Regions from separate parts of the Homo sapiens genome. Here region 2 is linked to region 1. The links come from fine-mapping of genetic effects on gene expression. A gene starts in region 1. The other region holds a variant in brackets. All regions are shown on one strand. Distances are between the middles of the regions. Region 1 holds the start of BCL7B (BAF chromatin remodeling complex subunit BCL7B). Region 2 overlaps BCL7B (BAF chromatin remodeling complex subunit BCL7B).

The links. PIP is the estimated chance that this variant, and not a neighbour inherited with it, causes the effect.
Region 2: its variant is fine-mapped to the expression of BCL7B in whole blood (TOPMed, PIP above 0.99).

The regions. Positions count from the first base shown.
Region 1 is chr7:73,552,308-73,561,409 of GRCh38, forward strand. It overlaps BCL7B (BAF chromatin remodeling complex subunit BCL7B), which reads right to left and starts at 5,383. Exons shown (of 6, transcript NM_001707.4): 1 at 5,180-5,383. The coding sequence starts at 5,271. RefSeq lists silencers at 4,719-5,168, 5,189-5,238, 5,259-5,368, 5,419-5,658.
Region 2 is chr7:73,532,967-73,542,068 of GRCh38, forward strand. It overlaps BCL7B (BAF chromatin remodeling complex subunit BCL7B), which reads right to left. Exons shown (of 6, transcript NM_001707.4): 4 at 6,916-7,086; 5 at 4,968-5,047; 6 at 3,390-4,424. The coding sequence ends at 4,332. Among named protein-coding and RNA genes, the nearest start is that of BAZ1B, 15 kb to the left of the region's middle. The variant G/A (reference allele first, on the strand shown) is at 3,908.

The sequences.
Region 1 (9,102 bases):
TTTTTCTACTACTCAGCAGATCATTCCTTCAATCTGGAATCCTTCTGAACTTCCTCTTGGTGGGGTATGGTAGCTCACACCTGAAATCCCAGCACTTTGAGAGGCTGAGGCAGGAGGATCACTCAAGCCTAGGAGGTTGAGAACAGCCTGGGCAATTTAGCGAGACCTCATCTCTAAAAAAAAAATACAGGCCAGGCGCAGCGGCTCACGCCTGTAAACCCAACACTTTGGGAGACTGAGGTGGGCAGATCGCTTGAGGTCAGGAGTTCGAGACCATCCCGGCCAACATGGTGAAACTCTGTCGCTACAAAAAAAAAACAAAAAGTAGCTGGGCGTGGTGGCGTGTGCCTGTAATCCCAGCTACTCCGGAGGCTAAGGTGGGAGGATCCCTTGAGCCCAGGTGGCAGAGGTTGCAGTAAACTGAGATCACGCCACCACACTCCAGCCTGGGCAACAGAGACCCTGTCTCAAAAGAAAGAAAGAAAAAAAAAAGGATGTGGGACATAAGGCTGGAAGGTAGCACACACAGCACCATATTCTTTTTTACTTGCATGCGAGTTACTTTGAGTGCTTTTCTCTTTACCAAATATATGAGTTCTATTACTACATTCCTTTTCTTTGTTTGTTTTAGTGAGACAGGGTCTCGTTCTGCCTCCCAGGCTGGAGTGAAGTGGCACAATCATAACTCACTGCAGCCTTGACCTCCTGGGCTCAAGCAATCCTTCCACCTCAGCCTCCTGAGTAGCTGGGACTAGAGGCGCACACCACCACGCCCAGCCAAATTTTTATTTTTTGTAGAGATGGTTGGGGTGGTGGGGTGGGGGTGGGGGGTCTCTCTTTGTTGCCCGCGCTGGTCTTGAACTCTTGGTCTCAAGCAGTCTGCCCACCTTGGCCTCCCAAAATGCTGGGATTACAGGCATGAGCCACCACACCTGGCCTCCTGTGTCCATTTAAAGACCCTTCCAAGGGGCAAACAATCTCAGGAGAGACACCTGCTGCTGGGGGGTATGGCCTGGTGGGTGTGAAATGTTAGGAACCTTTCCCTTTCTGGGTTACTAAGACTGCATAAAGAAAAAGAAAACTAGGCCAGGCGCGCTGGCTCACACCTGTAATCCCAGCACTTTGGGAGGCCAAAGTGGGCGGATCACGAGGTCAAGAGATCGAGACCATCCTAGCTAATACGGTGAAACCCTGTCTCTACTAAAAATACAAAAAATTAGCTGGGTGTGGTGGCACGCACCTGTAGTCCCAGCTACTCAGGAGGCTGAGGCAGGAGAATTGCTTGAACCTGAGAGGCAGAGGTTGCAGTGAGCCGAGATTGCGCCAATGCACTCCAGCCTGGGTGACAGAGCGAGATTCCGTCTCAAAAAAAAAAAGAAAGAAAACTAGTCTAAAGAAATTTTTAAATTTCAACTTTGAAGTTCAAAGCTTTGTAGAAATCCTGTCTCTTGCTGTGTTCCAAAGGGGTAAAAATGGCAGAGTTTATCAGTCCACTACGCTCACGAAATAAGCAAAGGGATAAGCCTTGCACAAGGTCACTCTCTAAATGACTAAGGACCCCCAACTATCTACACCAGATTAGAATGCCACTGTTCTGAGCTTACCCACAGAGTGCCTTCGAGGTCTGCAAACAAATGTGTGGAGGAGATAGAACAAAGGAGACTTTTTTTTTTTTTTTTTTTGAGATAGGGTCTCCGTCACCCAGGCTGGAGTGCAGTGGCGTGATCACCACTCCTTGCGGCCTCAAAATCCCAGGCTCAGGTGAATCTCCCATCTCAGCCTCCCAAGTAGCTGGGACTACAGGCCACCACGCCCAGTTAATTTTTTGTATTTTTAGTAAGGATAGGGTTTCACCATGTTGCCCAGGTTGATCTTGAACTCCTGGGCTCAAGCGATCCTCTTGCCTCAGCCTCTCGAAGTGCTGGGATTACAGGTGTGAGCCACCGTGCCCAGCCTCTCCTTCATTCCAAGAAGGTTATTCCCTAAGCGTGCAGGCAGAGAACAAATTTGCTTATTTTAAGGTCCACCAATACCTTAAGAGGTACTTGCTGTCAGTAGGAACAAGGGTCAAATGCAGGGAACTGCTTTGTCACAGATCTGAGCCAACTTCTCAAAGAGTCAAGTCCAAATATGAAGTCACGAAAAAGCAAAAAAAAAGCAACTGCTGTTGTAGTTGTTGATGCTGTTCAGCAAATGATGACATAATAGGGCCGGGCACGGTGGCTCACACCTGCAACCCCAGCACTTTAGAAGGCTGAGGTGGGTGGATCACTTGAGCCCAGGAGTTCGAGACCAGCCTGGGCAATATGGTGAAATCCTGTCCTCACTAAAAATACAAAAATTAGCCGGGCATGGTGGCGCACACCTGTAGTCCCGACTACTCAGGAGGCTGAGGCGGAAGAACTGCTTGAACCCCAGAGGCGGACACTGCAGTGAGCCAAGACCACGCCACTGCACTCCAGCCTGGGTGACAGGCAAGACTGGGTCTCAAAAAAAAAAAAAAAAAACAGATGACATACTGGGAGTGTAAAGAGACTGTGATGTAACAGAAGGAGCGAATTAAAGTCTTAGAAAATAACTAAAATTAATTCCTGAACAGACCACTCCATTTTCTCATTTATTCAACCAATTAGTATACAACAGGCTGTGCTAGGCCCTGGTGATGCAGGGAACAAGATCCACAGTCCCTGCCCTCACAGACCCTGTCTTATATCTGGAAACAGACATGAATAGCTCAATTCAAGATTAGTCACTTAATCATCAGGTTCAACCATATCAAATTGCCATTTTTGTAGGTTAATTAGTCAAATACAGGAGGCCAGGCACAGTGGCTCACATCTGTAATTCCAGCACTTTGGGAGGTCATGGTGGGAGGACCACTTGGAATTCAGGAGTTCAAGACCAGCTTGGCCAACATGGTGAAACCCGGTCTCCACAAAAATACAAAAAATTAGCTGGGTGTGGTGGTGTACACTTATAATCAGCTACTCGGGAGGCTGAGGCAGAATTGCTTGAACCCGGGAAGCAGAGGTTGCCGTGAGCCAAGATCGCACCATTGCACTCCAACGTGGGTGACAGAGCAAGACTCTGTCTCAAAAAAAAAGAAATCAAATATAGGAAATGTCTTATGAGTCCATCTAATACAACTGTGGAAAGGTCTATGAAGGAGACTTGATCTAGATTGGGAATCTCAAGTGGTAAACCTAAGGAAGCAACTTTTGAGCTGAGCTAGGAGTTAACTCGGCAAGAGGGAGGAGAGGAGAGAGGAAGAAGAATGCCAGGCGGCAGGAAGAGCAGAGTGACTTCATTGGTAAGACAGCGGGCATCCTGGGAAAGAGCCAGCCAAGTGAGGCAGGAAGGAGGGCCTTCTTCAGTATTTATCCTAAAAGCAAGAAGGGAACCACTGAAGCATTACTAGGGGTGCTAGGATAAGATGCACATTTTATATATTTTTTTACAGATGGGGTCTCACTGTGTTGCCCAGGCTGGAGTGCCATGGCATGATCATAGTTCACTGCAGCCTCAACTCCTGGGCTCCAGCGATCCTCCCACCACAGCCTTCCAAATAAGGCTGTGCACTTTAAAAAGGTCACTCCGCTACTCGGAAGAGAGAAAAATAAAATCACTCAGTGCAAATGAACAGACTGGGGAATGAGCAAGAGCAGAAGCAGAGAGTTTACAGGGAGGCTGGTACAGAGTTCCAGGTGACAGGGGATGGCCCTTCAGCCTAGCCTGCTAGGGGCGGGGGGGTCAAAAATGGGGAGAAGAGAAAGGTGTACCTGTTCTTAGGTTTCACCAAAACCTCGGAGGATTAAAGGTGGACGAGGAAAACCATGAGTATGTTAAACTAATATTTATACTGAAACCCAACTATATATGAAGCCCTCAGACATAAAAAAGAGAAGGAACTTCCCTCTTGTGGGGAAATGGACAGATAAACACACAAATAAAGTCCAACGTACCAACGACCTTAAAGGAGGTAAAGGGATGGGAGGAGTTAAGGAAAGCTTCCTGGCGGGAGGTAACATCTACTTGAACTTTTATTTTCTGTAGAGACGGGGTCTCACTATGTTGCCCAGGCTGGTCTCAAACTCCTGGCCTCAAGCGATCCGCCCACCTCAGCCTCCCAAAGTGCTGGGATTACATGCCTGAGCCACCTCACCTAGCCAGACCTGGGTTTTTAAATTATTAGTAGTAATTGGCTATACAAAAGAGCTGACGAAGTTGGCTGTGAAAGTTTAATGTGATGACTCCGATACACACCGATATAGTATGTATCGGAGTTCCGGATACTAAACAGGGGCTCAATCGGCATCTTCCATGAACATTTTAGACACGGGGTCTCTCTCCGTAGCCCAGGCTGGAGTGCCGTGGCACGATCATAGCTCACTGCAGCCTCCAACTCCTGGGTCCCAGCAATCCTCCCACCACAGCCTCCCAAGTAAGGATGTGCACTTTAAAAAGACCACTCTGCTACTTGGAAGTGAGAAAAATAAAATCACACAGTGCAAATGATGAACGGACTGGGGAATGAACAAGAGCAGAAGCAGGGAAATTAGAGGGAGGCTGGTACATAGTTTGCAAAGGACTCTCCTGACAGCCGCCGGGGCAGCAAGAGAAAATGCCTACCAAGCTCGCGGCGCAGGGGCCGGTTACTGGGGGAAAGGGAGGGGTATCCCTCTGGATGACACCAGGCTTGCTCCCTTGACAGATGGACTAACCCAGAAACTCACCCAACTTCAACGCCTGAATACGCAGAGCGCTCAGCCTGGCGGGCTGACACCACTCCAGGGCTACTCGCTATTATCAAGAGGAAGCCTGGAAACGCAGGCGGGGCCACTGCCCAGGAAGAGGGGAGGGCGGGCCCCGGGCTGGGCCGGGCGCGGGCACCGACGCCAGGCAGCTCCAGTCCGGGCCGGAAGCCGGAATCCCCTCCCAGGCGGCGCGCGGCAGCAGCCGCAGCAGGTGGGCGGGCCCGCGAGCCGGGAGGACCGCTGATTGGCCGCGGCCGGCGCGCCCTCTGACCTCACGCCGACGCCAGCGGCGCCCTCCTCCCGCCTTCTCCCGCACCCCCCTCCCCCAGCGCCGGCCGGTCGGCTCCCACCTGACCCGCCAGTCCCACGCTCCTCAGGGCCTGGATCCGCGACCCCCGCCAGCCCCCTAAGCTCCGGCCCCTCACCATTTCCGCACTTTCTCGATGGCCGCCATCACCTTCTTGATGTCGTCCTTGGCCCGGCTGCGGGTCTCCGCCCGGACCGACCGGCCCGACATGGCGGCGGCGGGAGCGGCGGGGGCCGGGGCACTGCTCCCAAGACACCGGGGATCGCGCGCCTCACGCGCCGCCGCCCGCCCGCCGCCGCCGCAGCGTCACAGCGGCCGTCGCCCCCTCCGTGCGCGCGTGCGCGAGAAAGCGCGCGCACCCGCCCGCCCCTTGGGGCTCACGGCCTCAGCGCGCCTGCGCGCCCCGCCCGGGGCGTCCCTCCTGAGTGCCCCGGGAGTCCCCTGAGCCCCCTACCCGGGCCGGGGTGCGAGGCGGGTTGGGCGCACGTGCTTGTGGTCAGGGCGAGGTGCGAGGTGCCGCCGGTGGGCAACCTGGTTCTCTTCCCTGAGAGTTTGGAGGTCGGCTCCCTGCTCTGGCCAGCGTGTTAGGAACCTGACCCTGTGGAACCGCACTCCTGCGCCATCTCTGTCCTCCCGCCTCTCCTGCCCAGCACCTTTGCCCTCTGGCTCCTACGCTGTGCTCCAACCACGCCTTTCTTAAGGATGGCTTCCGGTCTTTGCACACACCTGTTCCTCACCTGGAATCCCCTCCTCTCTTTACCAGATGAACTGCTTTCCCAGCATTCAGACCACATTCTTGCCTTTTCTCGAGTATCTAGTAGTCCCAAGTATTTGGGAGGCTGAAGCGGGAGGATCACTTGACCCCAGGAATTTGAGGCTGCCGTCAGCTATGATATGATCGCACCTGTGAATAGCCACTGCACTCCAGCCTGGGCAACATATGGAGACCCCATGTCTAAACGAGACCCCGTCTCTAAAGTAAATAAATAAAAAGATGTCTATTTTGTGCAAGACTCTGTACCTAAAGCTGAAGACATACGTGGTTTTGGTTTCAAAGAGCTTCCAGTTTGTTTATTTATTGAGACGGAGTCTCGCTCTGTGACTCAGGCTGGAGTGCAGTGGTGTGATCTCCGCTCACTGCAACCTCCGCCTCCCGGGTTCAAGCGGTTCTTCTGCCTCAGCCTCCTGAGTAGCTGGGATTACAGGCGGGTGCCACCACGCCCAGCTAATTTTTGTAATTTTAGTAGAGACGGGGTTTTATCATGTTGGTCAGGCTGGTCTGGAACTCCTGACCTCGTGATCTGCCCGCCTTGGCCTCTCAAAGTGCTGGGATTACAGGCGTGAGCCACCACGCCTGGCCTTTTTTTTTTTGAGACGGAGTCTCGCTCTTTTGCCCAGGCTGGAGTACAGTGGTGTGATCTCGGCTCACTACAATCTCCGCCTCCCGGGTTCAAGCAATTTTCTGTCTCAGCCTTCCGAGTAGCTGGGATTATAGTCGTCCGCCATCACACCCAGCTAATTTTTTTATTTTTAGTGGAGATGGGGTTTCACCATGTTGGTCAGGCTGGTCTTGAACTCCTGACCTCGTGATCCACCTGCCTCGGCCTCCCAAAGTACTGGGATTACAGGCGTGAGCCACCGCACCCGGCCCAGTTTATTTATTCATGTGGAGAGGGGATCTCACTATGTTGTCCAGGCTGGTCTTGAACTCCTGGTCTCAAGGGATCCTCACAAAGTGCTGGGATTACAGGCATGAGCCACTGTGACTGGCTGAGCTTCCAGTTTAGTAGAACATTCAGACGAAAAAAAAATATTTATTTTTTACTTTTACTTATTTTTTGGTACAGGGCCTTGCTCAAGTGATCCTTCTGCCTCAGCCTCCTGTGTAGCTGAGACCACAGGCGAGGGCCACCATGCCTCGCTGACATTTTTTTTTTTTTTTTTTTGGTAGAGACAGGGTCTTCCTATGTTGCCCAGGTTGGTCTTGAACACCTGGACTCAATTGATCCTCCTTCCTCGGCCTCCCACAGTGCTGGGATTGCAGACGTGAGTCACTGGGTCCAGCTTCCCAAAGCATATTTAAAATGCTATTTGATAAATGCTAGCCTAGGCGGAGCATGGTGGCTCACGCCTGTAATCCCAGCACTTTGGGAGGCCAAGGTGGGTGGATCATTTGAGGTCAGGAGTTTGAGATCAGCCTGTCCAACGTGGCAAAACCCCATCTCTACTAAACATACAGAATTAGCTGCTTGGAAAGCTGAGGCAGGAGAATCGCTTGAACCCAGGAGGTGGAGGTTGCAGTGAGCCAAGATCGCACCATTGCACTCCAGCCCGGGCAACAAGAACAAAACTCCATCTTGGAAAAAATAAATTAATTAAACAAATAAGTAAAATGCTATTTGATAAATGCCAGCTTAAGTAGGGGAGGGGAGGTGTAAGATGCTATGGCTTTTATTCCTAGTCTGCAGCAAAGAAAAAAGAGGTGTTATGACAACCTTAATCTTGAAGCTGACCTCTAAAAATAGGGTAGGTGCTGTTACTCCCAGGGCAGTGTTCACAGATGCTACAGATGCTCAATAAATGTTTGCATGAATGTTGAATCCAGTGCAAGCTCTTGTCCTCTTTGCCCCCACCCAATTGCAGGCAGGTGTCACCCACGCTTGCAGTATGCGGAGAGGGTCCTGTAGCAGCTGTTTCAGGACACAGCTTGGGACAGAAAGCAGATTGGTAGTGGCTGTTCTCACCTATAAAGAAACTAATTTCCATGTGCTCCAGAGAAATGCCTAGCTAGCCCTGAACTTGAGACAGCCTCTGATTATGAGTCAGCCTTTCATGATCAAGCAACATAGGGCAAGCATATGTCATCTTACTGGCGAGGGGGCCAGAAATAGCTTCTGCCTGACTGAGGAGTGCAAAAGCTGAACCAGCATGTGGAGTGAAAAGATGATTCTAGAAATAACGGGATCAAAGGTGGCACATTTGTTGTTCAGACCCAGCCGATCCAAAATAACCGCAGATTGCCTAAGCACCTGCTGTACGCCCTAGCACAGTGGACACTGCAGGTGATGTGAAGTTGAGTAAGACACACTCCTTGTCCTTGGGGTGAAGGTGAGGAAAGCAGTAGAAAGGCAGAACATACGTGCCAAGAGAGAGGCCAGCCCTTGAGACTTCTCCAGTTCTGCCCATAGATCCCCCTGGTTGAGGCACACAGCCCCTGTGTCTGTCTCACCCTTGTCCAAATCCTCCCACGTGAGGTTTCTTGTCTGTAGCTTCCTTCTCGTCCACAGCCCAGCGCTCCTCCCAGCTGCACAGGTTCCCTGCACACATGTCTCCCCCAGCTCACCCAGCCAGTCGTCTTCCTGGGGCAAAGTCCCAGAGACCCCCCCAACCTTGTTTTCTCCCTACATTTGTCCACCTAGTCCTACATTCCCCACCTCATCTTCCACTGGGGCTCGGTCTGTGTAAGAGAGTGATCAAAGTGGGCACCTACCACCTATTCCTCATAGCCTACCCAAATGCTCTGTGTTGATACCCTTTTTTTTTCTTTTTCTTTCTTTTTTAGACAGAGTTTCGCTCTTGTCACCCAGGCTGGAGTGCAGTGGCGCAGTCTCGGCTCACCGCAACCTCCGCCTCCCTGGTTCAAGCCATTCTCCTGCCTCAGCCACCTGAGTAGCCGGGATTACAGGCATGCGCCACCACGCCTGGCTAATTTTGTATTTTTAGTAGAGACGGGGTTTCTCCATGTTGGTCAGGCTGGTCTCGAACTCCCGACCTCAGGTGATCCGCCTGCCTCGACTTCCCAAAATGCTGGGATTATAAGCATGAGCCACTGCGCCCAGCCTCTTTTCTTTTTTTCCCTTAAGACGGAGTTTTGCTTTTGTTTCCCAGGCTGGAGTGCAGTAGTGCGATCTTGGCTCACTGCAACCTCCGCCTCCTGGGTTCCAGTGATTCTCCTGCTTCAGCCTCCTGAGTAGCTGGGACTAGAGGTGCCCACCACCACACTCGGCTAATTTTTTGTGTTTTTAGTAGAAACGGAGTTTC
Region 2 (9,102 bases), 19 kb before region 1:
AGTCTCCCAAAGTGCTGGGATTACAGACATGAGCCACCACGCCTGGCCAATATTTTTATTTTTTAATAAGACAAGGTCTCTTTCTGTTGCCCAGGCCGGAGCGCAGTGGTGCAATCATGGCTCACTGCAGCCTTGACCTCCAGGGCTCAGGCAATCCTCCTGCTTCAGCCTCCAGAGTACATGGGTCCAGAGGTGTGCACCACCACACTCAGCTAACTAAAAAAAAAAAAAAATTATTTGTAGAGATGGAGTCTCCCTTTGTTGCTGAGGCTGGTCTTAAACTCCTGGACTCAAGCAGTCCTCCTCCTCAGCCTCCCAAAGTGTTGGGATTACAGGCATGAGCTACTGCACCCAGCCCATTATACTTTCCTTTGTTTAAACACATTAAAACAGTTATGTTGGCCAGGCATGATGGCTCACGGCTGTAATCCCAGCACTTTGGGAAATGGAAACCGAGGTGGGTCCAGCCTGGGCAACATAGTGAGACCTTGTCTTTACAAAAAAAAAAAGGGTCAAGCGCAGTGGCTCACGACTGTAATCCCAGCACTTTGGGAGGCTGAGGTGGGTGGATAACGAGATTGGGAGTTCGAGAACAGCCTGGCTAAGGTGGTGAAACGTCGTCTGTACTAAAAATACAAAAATTAGCCAGGCACAGTGGCAGGCACCTGTTATCCCGGCTACTCAGGAGGCCGAGGCAGGAGAATTGCTTGAACCTGGGAGGCGGAGGTTGCAGTGAGCCAAGATCACGCCACTGCACTCTAGCCTGGGTGACAGAGAACACTCTGTCTCAGAAAAAAAATACGTATTTTGTGTACCACATACAATCACATTATCTGTAAAATTCATTTGACAATTTGATTTTATATGTCTCTTTTTTTGAGACTCCCTCTGTCGCCCAGGCTAGAGTGCAGTGTCATGATCACGGCTCACGACAGCCTTGACCTCCTGGGCTCAAGAGATCCGCCCACCTCAGCCGTCGAGCAGGGGATGCTACAGGCATGCACCAACATGCCCAGCTAATTTTTGTTTTTGTTTTAGAGATGAGGTTTCACCATGTTGCCCAGGCTGGTCTCGAACTTCTGGGCTCAAGCGATCTTCCCAAAGTGCTGGGATTACAGGCATGAGCCACTGTACCTGGCTGTTACATTTTTAAAAGATTATTACTTATTTTTTTAGAGACAGAGTTTCACCCTGTCGCCCGGGCTGGAGTGTAATGGCGCAATCGGGCTCCCTGCAACCTCCGCCTCCCAGGTTCAAGAGATTCTTGTACCTCAGCCTCCCAAGTAGCTGGGATTACAGACATGTGCCAGAACGCCCGGCTAATTTTTTGTATCTTTGGTAGAGATGGGGGTTTCACCACGCTGGTCAGGCTGATCTCGAACTCATGACCTCGTGATCCGCCCGCCTCAGCCTCCCAAAGTGCTGGGATTACAGGTGTGAGCCACCACGCCCGGCCTACATTTTTGTATTTGTTAATGAGACAGGGTCTTGCCATGTTGCCCAGGCTCGTCTTAACTCCCAGGCTCAGGCAATCTTCCTGCCTTAGCCTTCCAAAGTGCTGGGATTACAGGCCACTGTGCCCAGCCCTATATATATAAAAATATTTATATATATATATATATTTTGAGATGGAGTCTTGCTCTGTCGCCCAGGCTGGAGTGCAGTGGCGTGATCTCAGCTCACCGCAAGCTCCGCCTCCTGGGTTCACACCATTCTCTTGCCTCAGCCTCCCGAGTAGCTGGGATTACAGGCGTGAGCCACCGTGCCCAGCCCCAGCCCTATTTATATTTTGTAAGAAAAGATAAAACAGGGGCCGGGTGCGGTGGCTCATGCCTGTAATCACAGCACTTTGGGAGGCCGAGGCGGGCAGATCATGAGGTCAGGAGATCGAGACCATCCTGGCTAACACAGTGAAACCCCGTCTCTACTAAAAATACAAAAAATTAGCTGGGCGTGGTGGCAGGCGCCTGTAGTCCCAGCTACTCGGGAGGCTGAGGCAGGAGAATGGTGTGAACCCGGGTGGCGGAGCTTGCGGTGAGCCGAGATCCCGCCACTGCCAGCCTGGGTGACAGAGCGAGACTCCGTCTCAAAAAAAACAAAAACAAAACATAGAACAGTAGAACTTGTATTATAGTCTCATCCATGACACCTGGAGCCCCTGTGAGAAATGAGGGGAATCACTCCGGGAAATAAACAGATCTGTGGCTGCCAGGGCCCGAGGGGAGGGGAAGAAATGGTGAATGATGCTAACTGGACATGAGGTTTCCATTTGGGATAATAAAAAAGTTCGGAGCTGGACTGTGAGGACTGCCCAGCACTGTGAATGTACTCAGTACTCAGTACCACTGAAATGCACACTTCACAATGGTGACAAAAGTAACTCTTGGCCAGGTGCAGTGGCTCACACATGTAATCCCAGCACTTTGGGAGCCTAAGGGGTTCGAAACCAGCCTGGCCAACATGGTGAAACCCCACCTCTACTAAAATTACAAAAATTAGTCAGACGTGGTGGTGCACGTCTGTAATCCCAGCTACTTGGGAGGCAGAGGTTGCAGTGAGTTGAGAACACACCACTGTACTCCAGCCTGCTGGGTGACAGAGTGAGACTCTGTCTCAAAAAACAAACAAACAAAAACCTTTTATGTTACGTGTATTTTACCACAAGGGGGGAAAAAAAGAACTCATGAATCCCTCCGAACTACATGGACCTGTGGAAAACACATCCATGGGCTGCATTTGGTGTACACAGGGATGGAATTTGGTTTTGTTTTTTGAGATGGAGTCTCGCTCCGTCACCCAGGCTGGAGCGCAGTGGCGCAGTCTTGGCTCACTGCAACCTCCACCTCCCAGGTTCGAGCAATGCTCGTCTCAGCCTCCCAAGTAGCTGGGACTAAAGGCGCCTGCCACCATGCCTGGCTAATTTTTGTATTTTTAGTAGAGATGGGGTCTCATTTTGCTGGTCAGGCTGGTCTTGAACTCCTGAGCTCAGATGATCCACCCACCTCAGCCTCCCAAAGTGCTAAGATTACAGGCGGGAGCCACTGCGCCTGGCCTGGTTTTTATGTTTTAATTTAAAAATATTGTTTAGATAGAGATAGGGTCTTGCTGTGTTGCCCAGGCTGGTCTCAAACTCCTAGCCTCAAGTGATCCTCCTGCCTCGGCCTCCCAAAGTGCTGGGATAAGAAGTATGAGCCACCACGCCCAGCGAGAAGCATAATTTGAACTACGTGACAGCTTCAAAGGGAGGCTAGAAATCACTGTCATGAAGTCCACACTGTGGGAGTGAAAGGATGGGCAGGCCCAGCCCACAGTGACCCCACAAGCACTCAGCCACCACCCCCACCCCGGCCCGCAACCTTCAAGAAGGAAGCACTCAGATACCAACAGGACATATTTCAAATAGTTTAATTTTAAAAATATTCTATTCAGTGCTAAAATATGTCTTCACTCACTGTTGCCCATTTCCATTTTCTTAAACTTTTTTGAAACAAAAAATAAAATCACAAAGTTCAATTCAACATGCAGATTTCAAAGAAAAGGGAGCTTTCTAGAAACTGAGCTGAAGGGGTACTGTGGGGGATGGGTACTGTTGTCAGAACCTCAAATTCTTGCTGGGGCAGTTTGTGACAAGAGGCAGGGATGCTGGAATGACAGGTAGAGGTGAGAACAAAGCTGCGTGTGTGCAGATGTGTGTGCTGAGGGCAGGGGATGGGGACGGCGGCCACAAAGGGCTGTCAGCAGCTAGGGTGCCCGTGAGAGGTAGGACCACCTCAGGCATGGGCAGAGCTGGCAGGACAGCAAGAAATCTAGACGGACTCTCTGCCCTTGTGTGGAGAAAAGCCCTTCCCTTCCCTCCAATGTCTCTACCCAGTCCTCCAACAGCAGCCTACAGGGCCCCCAGTCCTAG[G/A]GGAAAGTCCGGGAGTCTACAGTCTCCGTTCAAGTTCAAGTAACCTGAGGCACGCTCTCTTCTAGAAGGTGCCTTCCACATCTCTCTCTTCTCGCAGAAGCTGCCAGCAGCTCCGTCCAGAGATTCTGGAGCAGAGACTGCTGCCTGGAGGTCACAGATGAATCTTGGGGTGGCCGATGCTCCAGCCAACTTGGGGTGCAAAAAAGACATGAGCGCTCCTCTTCTCGGGAGCAAGTAGACACAGGTGCCAGGGTCAGGAAGATGATGCTACAGCCCCAAGTCCTACGCCAGCCTTCCAGCCCGGAAGGCTCATGTGTGCAGGCTCTTGACCCCAGTGCTTGCCCTTACCCCAGCAACGCGGCGCGGCCAGAACCAGAATGCAATAAATAGAGGCAGGGCCAGGAGGCGGAGGGCCGGGATGGTGCTAGCTTTCTGACGCCGTCTGCGGCACTGTGGGTTGGTCCACACAGAAGCGCTTCAGGGGCGGGGCACCTGAGTCTTCCTCTTCCTCAACGACCTAGGAGCAGGCAGAGCATGGAATGCCAGGGCCACCCCTCCCAACCAGAACCTTCCCACCCACCCGAATTATAATGGGATGTCCACTCTGCTCCTTCCAGCAGATGATCAAACATCCTCCCCTGCCTACAACCCTGGGACTCATTTCCGGCGCTGCAGATCCAACCCCACATCCACAGTCTTTCCTGGTTTTTTGACTTAGAAACTGGGAAGCCTGGCCGGGCACAGTGGCTCACACCTATAATCCCAGCACATTGGGAGGCTGAGATGGGTGGATCACTTGGGCTCAGGAGTTCGAGACTAGCCTGGCCAACATAGTGAAACCCCATCTCTACTAAAAATACAAAAATTAGCCAGGTGTGGTAGTGGGCGCCTGTAATCCCAGCTACTCAGGAGGCTGAAACAGGAGAATTGCTTGAACCCAGGAGGCAGTGGAGGTTGTAGTGAGCCAGGATCGCACCACTGCACTCTAGTCTGGGCAACAGCGAGACCCTGCCTTAAACCAAAAAAACAAAAAACTGGAAAACTCAAAGTGATTGCTTACCTGTGTCTCTAGTGGAACTGGTTCTTCCTTGGTGAGGGTAGGAGGTTCATCAGCAACTTCCGAGGAGGGCAGGGAGGGCTCTGAAAAGGCAGTAGGGTCGGCCTGAGGGCAGGGCTCCCCTGAGGCCTGGACCTGGGGGAGCTTCCTTAGAGCTGTGTGGAGGTGGCTTGGTGAGGAGGGGAGAATACTGGCCTGAGAAGCAAACATTCATTCAGGGCCCAGCTGGACCAGGTCACAGCCAAGAATGGTGGAAGGGCAAAATACGGCTAGACTGCAGAGGGCCATCTCTGCTGGGCTGGAGATATCTGGAACCGACAAAGCAGCTCATCTTGTCATCCTCTAGCCCAAACATCACAACTCTAACTCAATCTCCCAGTTTTCTGAGAGTTGCTATGAGGACGAGATGAAGTAATAAAACACAGGAGCTAAGAACAGCACATGCCAAATAGTAAGAACACAATAAATATTAACTACAATTGGCATTTCCCATGGAGAAACAAGTTCCATTTTGTAGTTGGCTGTTAACAGGTCACAGCACAGGAGAAGGTAACAAGGGCCTAAGACACATCTATATATCCATATTATAACAAGAAACCTGGGTCGGGCATGGTGGCTCACACCTATAATCCCAGCTACTCTGGAGGCTGAGGTGGGAGGATCACTTGAAGCCCAGGAGTTCAAGACCAGCCTGGGCAACATAGTGAGACTCCATTTCTACAGAAAATTAAAAGAAAGCCAGGCATGGTGGCAAAGGCTTACAGTCCTACTACTACGGAGTCTGAGGCAAGAGGATCACTTGACCCCAGGAGTTCAAGACTGCAGTGAGCTAGGATTCAGCCACTGCATTCTAGCCTGGGCAACAGAGCAAGACCCTATCTCTTTAAAAAAAAAAAAAAAAAAAAAAAGAAAAGAAAAAAATTTAGCATGTAATGCAGACAGCATAAATGCTGAAAATAGAAGGACTTAAAGTGACATTCATTCCAACAGTTACTAGACTGGCTATGTGATCTCAGACAAGCGATTTAACCTTTCTCTGTTTTTTTTTGAGATGAAGTCTAGCTCTGTCGCCAGGCTGGAGTGCCCTGGTGCGATCTTGGCTCACTGCAACCTCTGCCTCCTGGGTTTAAGTGATTCTCCTGCCTCAGCCTCCCGAGTAGCTGGGATTACAGGCTTGCGCCACCATGCCTGGCTAATTTTTGTATTTTTAGTAGAGATGGGGTTTCACCATGTTGGTCAGGCTGGTCTCTAACTCTTGACCTCAGGTGATCCACCCACTTCGGCCTCCCAAAGTGCTGGGATTACAGGTGTGAGCCACCGCGCCAGGTCTTTTTTTTTTGAGATGGAGTCTCACTCTGTTGCCCAGGCAAGAATACACTGGTGTGATCTCAGCTCACTGTAACCTCTGCTTCTTGGGTTCAAGTGATTCTTCTGCCTCAGCCTCCGGAGTAGCTGGGATTACAGGCACATGCCACCACGCCCAACTAAATTTTTTATGTTTTTAGTAGAGACGGTTTTGCCATGTTGGTCAGGCTGGTCTTGAACTCCTGGCCTCAAGTGACCCGCTCACCTCGACCTCCCAAAGTGCTGGGATTACAGGTGTGAGCCACCATGCCCAGCCCAATTTAACCTTTCTAAGCTTTGAATGTCCATTTTCCTCATCTGTAAAAGAAGACAATAGCTGCCACCTCACAGGATTTTTGAGAGAATTATAGCAGGCGTCAAATACTCAAGTTCCTTCCACACAGCCTGGCACGCAACTCTAATGCTTGTTTTCTCCCTTCCCTCTGTGAAAGGGGAAACTATAATCATTCCTAAGCTATCGAGAAAGGGCTTGGTGCTGCCTGGCTCTGAGGTGCTCTCTCGAGCCTGTTACTCTAAAGACGAGACACAACAAGAGCAGAAAGCAAGGCCCTTCTAGGAAACTCATCCTCGGCCAACCACGACTCACCCTCCAGGATCTCCTGGCCCAGCGTTGGGGGCTGGGAGTCATCCGTGCGGAAGTCGGAGGTGTGTGCTGGGCTCAGGGACTCACTCTGCTGGGGGCTGGGGCTTGAGTTGGTGCTGCTGTCCACCTTAAGCTGATAGACGTCAGACACGGAACTCTGGTTGCTGTTTTCGTCTGAAAACCAAACAGAACAAAGGCAGCAGCTGAGCGTGGTCATTTTCCTCAAGAGGAACTCTGGACAGAGCCAAGGGCCTGGCATCACTTTAGGCAGCCAAGGATACAACTGAGTATAATAATCATTGTGCCCGGCCTACACGACATAGATTCTAAGCACCAGAGGCAGCCAGAATCTTTATGTTTATGCAACATTACACTTTAGGAAGGTCAGGATATGCTTATTAAACTCTTCTTTATTATCCACTGATTGCAGCTTGTGGAAGGGAGGGATGTAGCTGTGTCTCTGGTCAGTACTTCTCAATCCTTCTCACATCATAAGATGTGTAGAAAATGACATTTGTCAGGCATCCTTGGGCATCTGAAGGAGGCTGGTGGTGTCTGAAGGTGGTGAGCTCAGGCTTCGGCTGCCGGACTGACGGATTAGCACCTGGGAGTTCTGCCTGAAGGCTTAAAGTCACCATCAAGGTGCAAAACTTAAGAGTTACCAGGCCGAGGCCAGGCACGGTGGCTCACGCCTGTAATCCCAGCACTTTGGGAGGCCGAGGTGGGCAGATCACAAGGTCAGGACATCGAGACCATCCTGGCTAACACGGTGAAACCCCGTCTCTACTAAAATTACAAAAAATTAGCCGGCTGTGGTGGTGGGCACCTGTAGTTCCAGCTACTCAGGAGGCTGAGGCAGAAGAATGGCATGAACCTAGAAGGCAGAGCTTGCAGTGAGCCGAGATCGCGCCATTGCACTCCAGCCTGAGCAACAGAGCGAGACTCTGTCTCAAAAAAAAAAAAAAAAAAAAAAAAAAGAGTTACCAGGCCGAGTGCAGTGGCTCACGCCTGTAATCCCAGCACTTTGGGAGGCCAAGGTGGGCGGATCACTTGAGGTCAGAAGTTTGAGACCAGCCTGGCCAACATGGTGAAACCCCGTCTCTACTGAAAATACAAAAATTAGCCGGGCATGATAGCACGCGCCTGTAATCCCAGTTACTTGGGAGGCTGAGGCAGGAAAATCGCTTGAACCCGGGAGGTGGAGGTTGCAGTGAGCTGAGATCGTGCCATTGCACTGTAGCCTGGGTGACATGGCGAGACTCCGTCTCAAAAAATAAAAATTAAAATTAAAAAAAAAGAAAAAAAGTAAGAGTCACCAATGCATTCCTCCGCTGCACCTACAGTAGCCAGTCACCAAAGTGTTTCCCCCTCCTGCTCTGGTATCATTTGTGCTCATTCCTTCCTCTCCTACTGCTTCAGTTCAAGCCTCATCATCTCCAGCCTGGCCTCCTGCAACAGCCACATACCTCACTGCCCTGCCTCCAGTCTCACGTACCTTAAACTGAACTGCAAACCACTGCCAGAGAGACCTTTCTAAACCCTTCGACGCTCCACTGCTGCCTAAGGGAGAAATGTCATACCCAGTACTTTTTTTTTTTTTTTTTTTGAGACCGAGTTTCGCTCTTGTTGCCCAGGCTGGAGTGCAATGGTGCTATCTCAGCTCACCACAACCTCTGCCTCCTGGGTTCAACTGATTCTCCTGCCTCAGCCTCTTGAGTAGCTGGGATTACAGGCTTGCGCCACCACGCCTGGGTAATTTTGTATTTTTATTAGAGACGGGGTTTCACCATGTTGGTCAGGCTGGTCTCGAACTCCTGACCTCAGGTAATCCACCTGCCTCAGCCTCCCAAAGTGCTGGGATTACAGGCATGAGCCACCACGCCCAGCCATACCCAGTACTTCTTAGGAGAGGCAGGAGCTGGCCTTATCGCAACATAGGAAGTCCTTTCTGATCTCTGGCCTCAGTGCCTACTGTTCTCCTACAAGCATCCTCAGCTCCAGGCAGACTGGACCCTAACCCAAGAGCTTCGTCATGCATGGGTGCTTCTGCCCAGCTGTTCCTTGGCTAGGCTGCCTTCTCTTGTCCTGGAAAGCCTCAGACCTCCCAACACAGCCCCGACATCACTTCTTCCGCGGAGCCCTACCTCCCTGGCTCGCATAGGTGGAAATGCCCACCCTCTCTTACTCTCC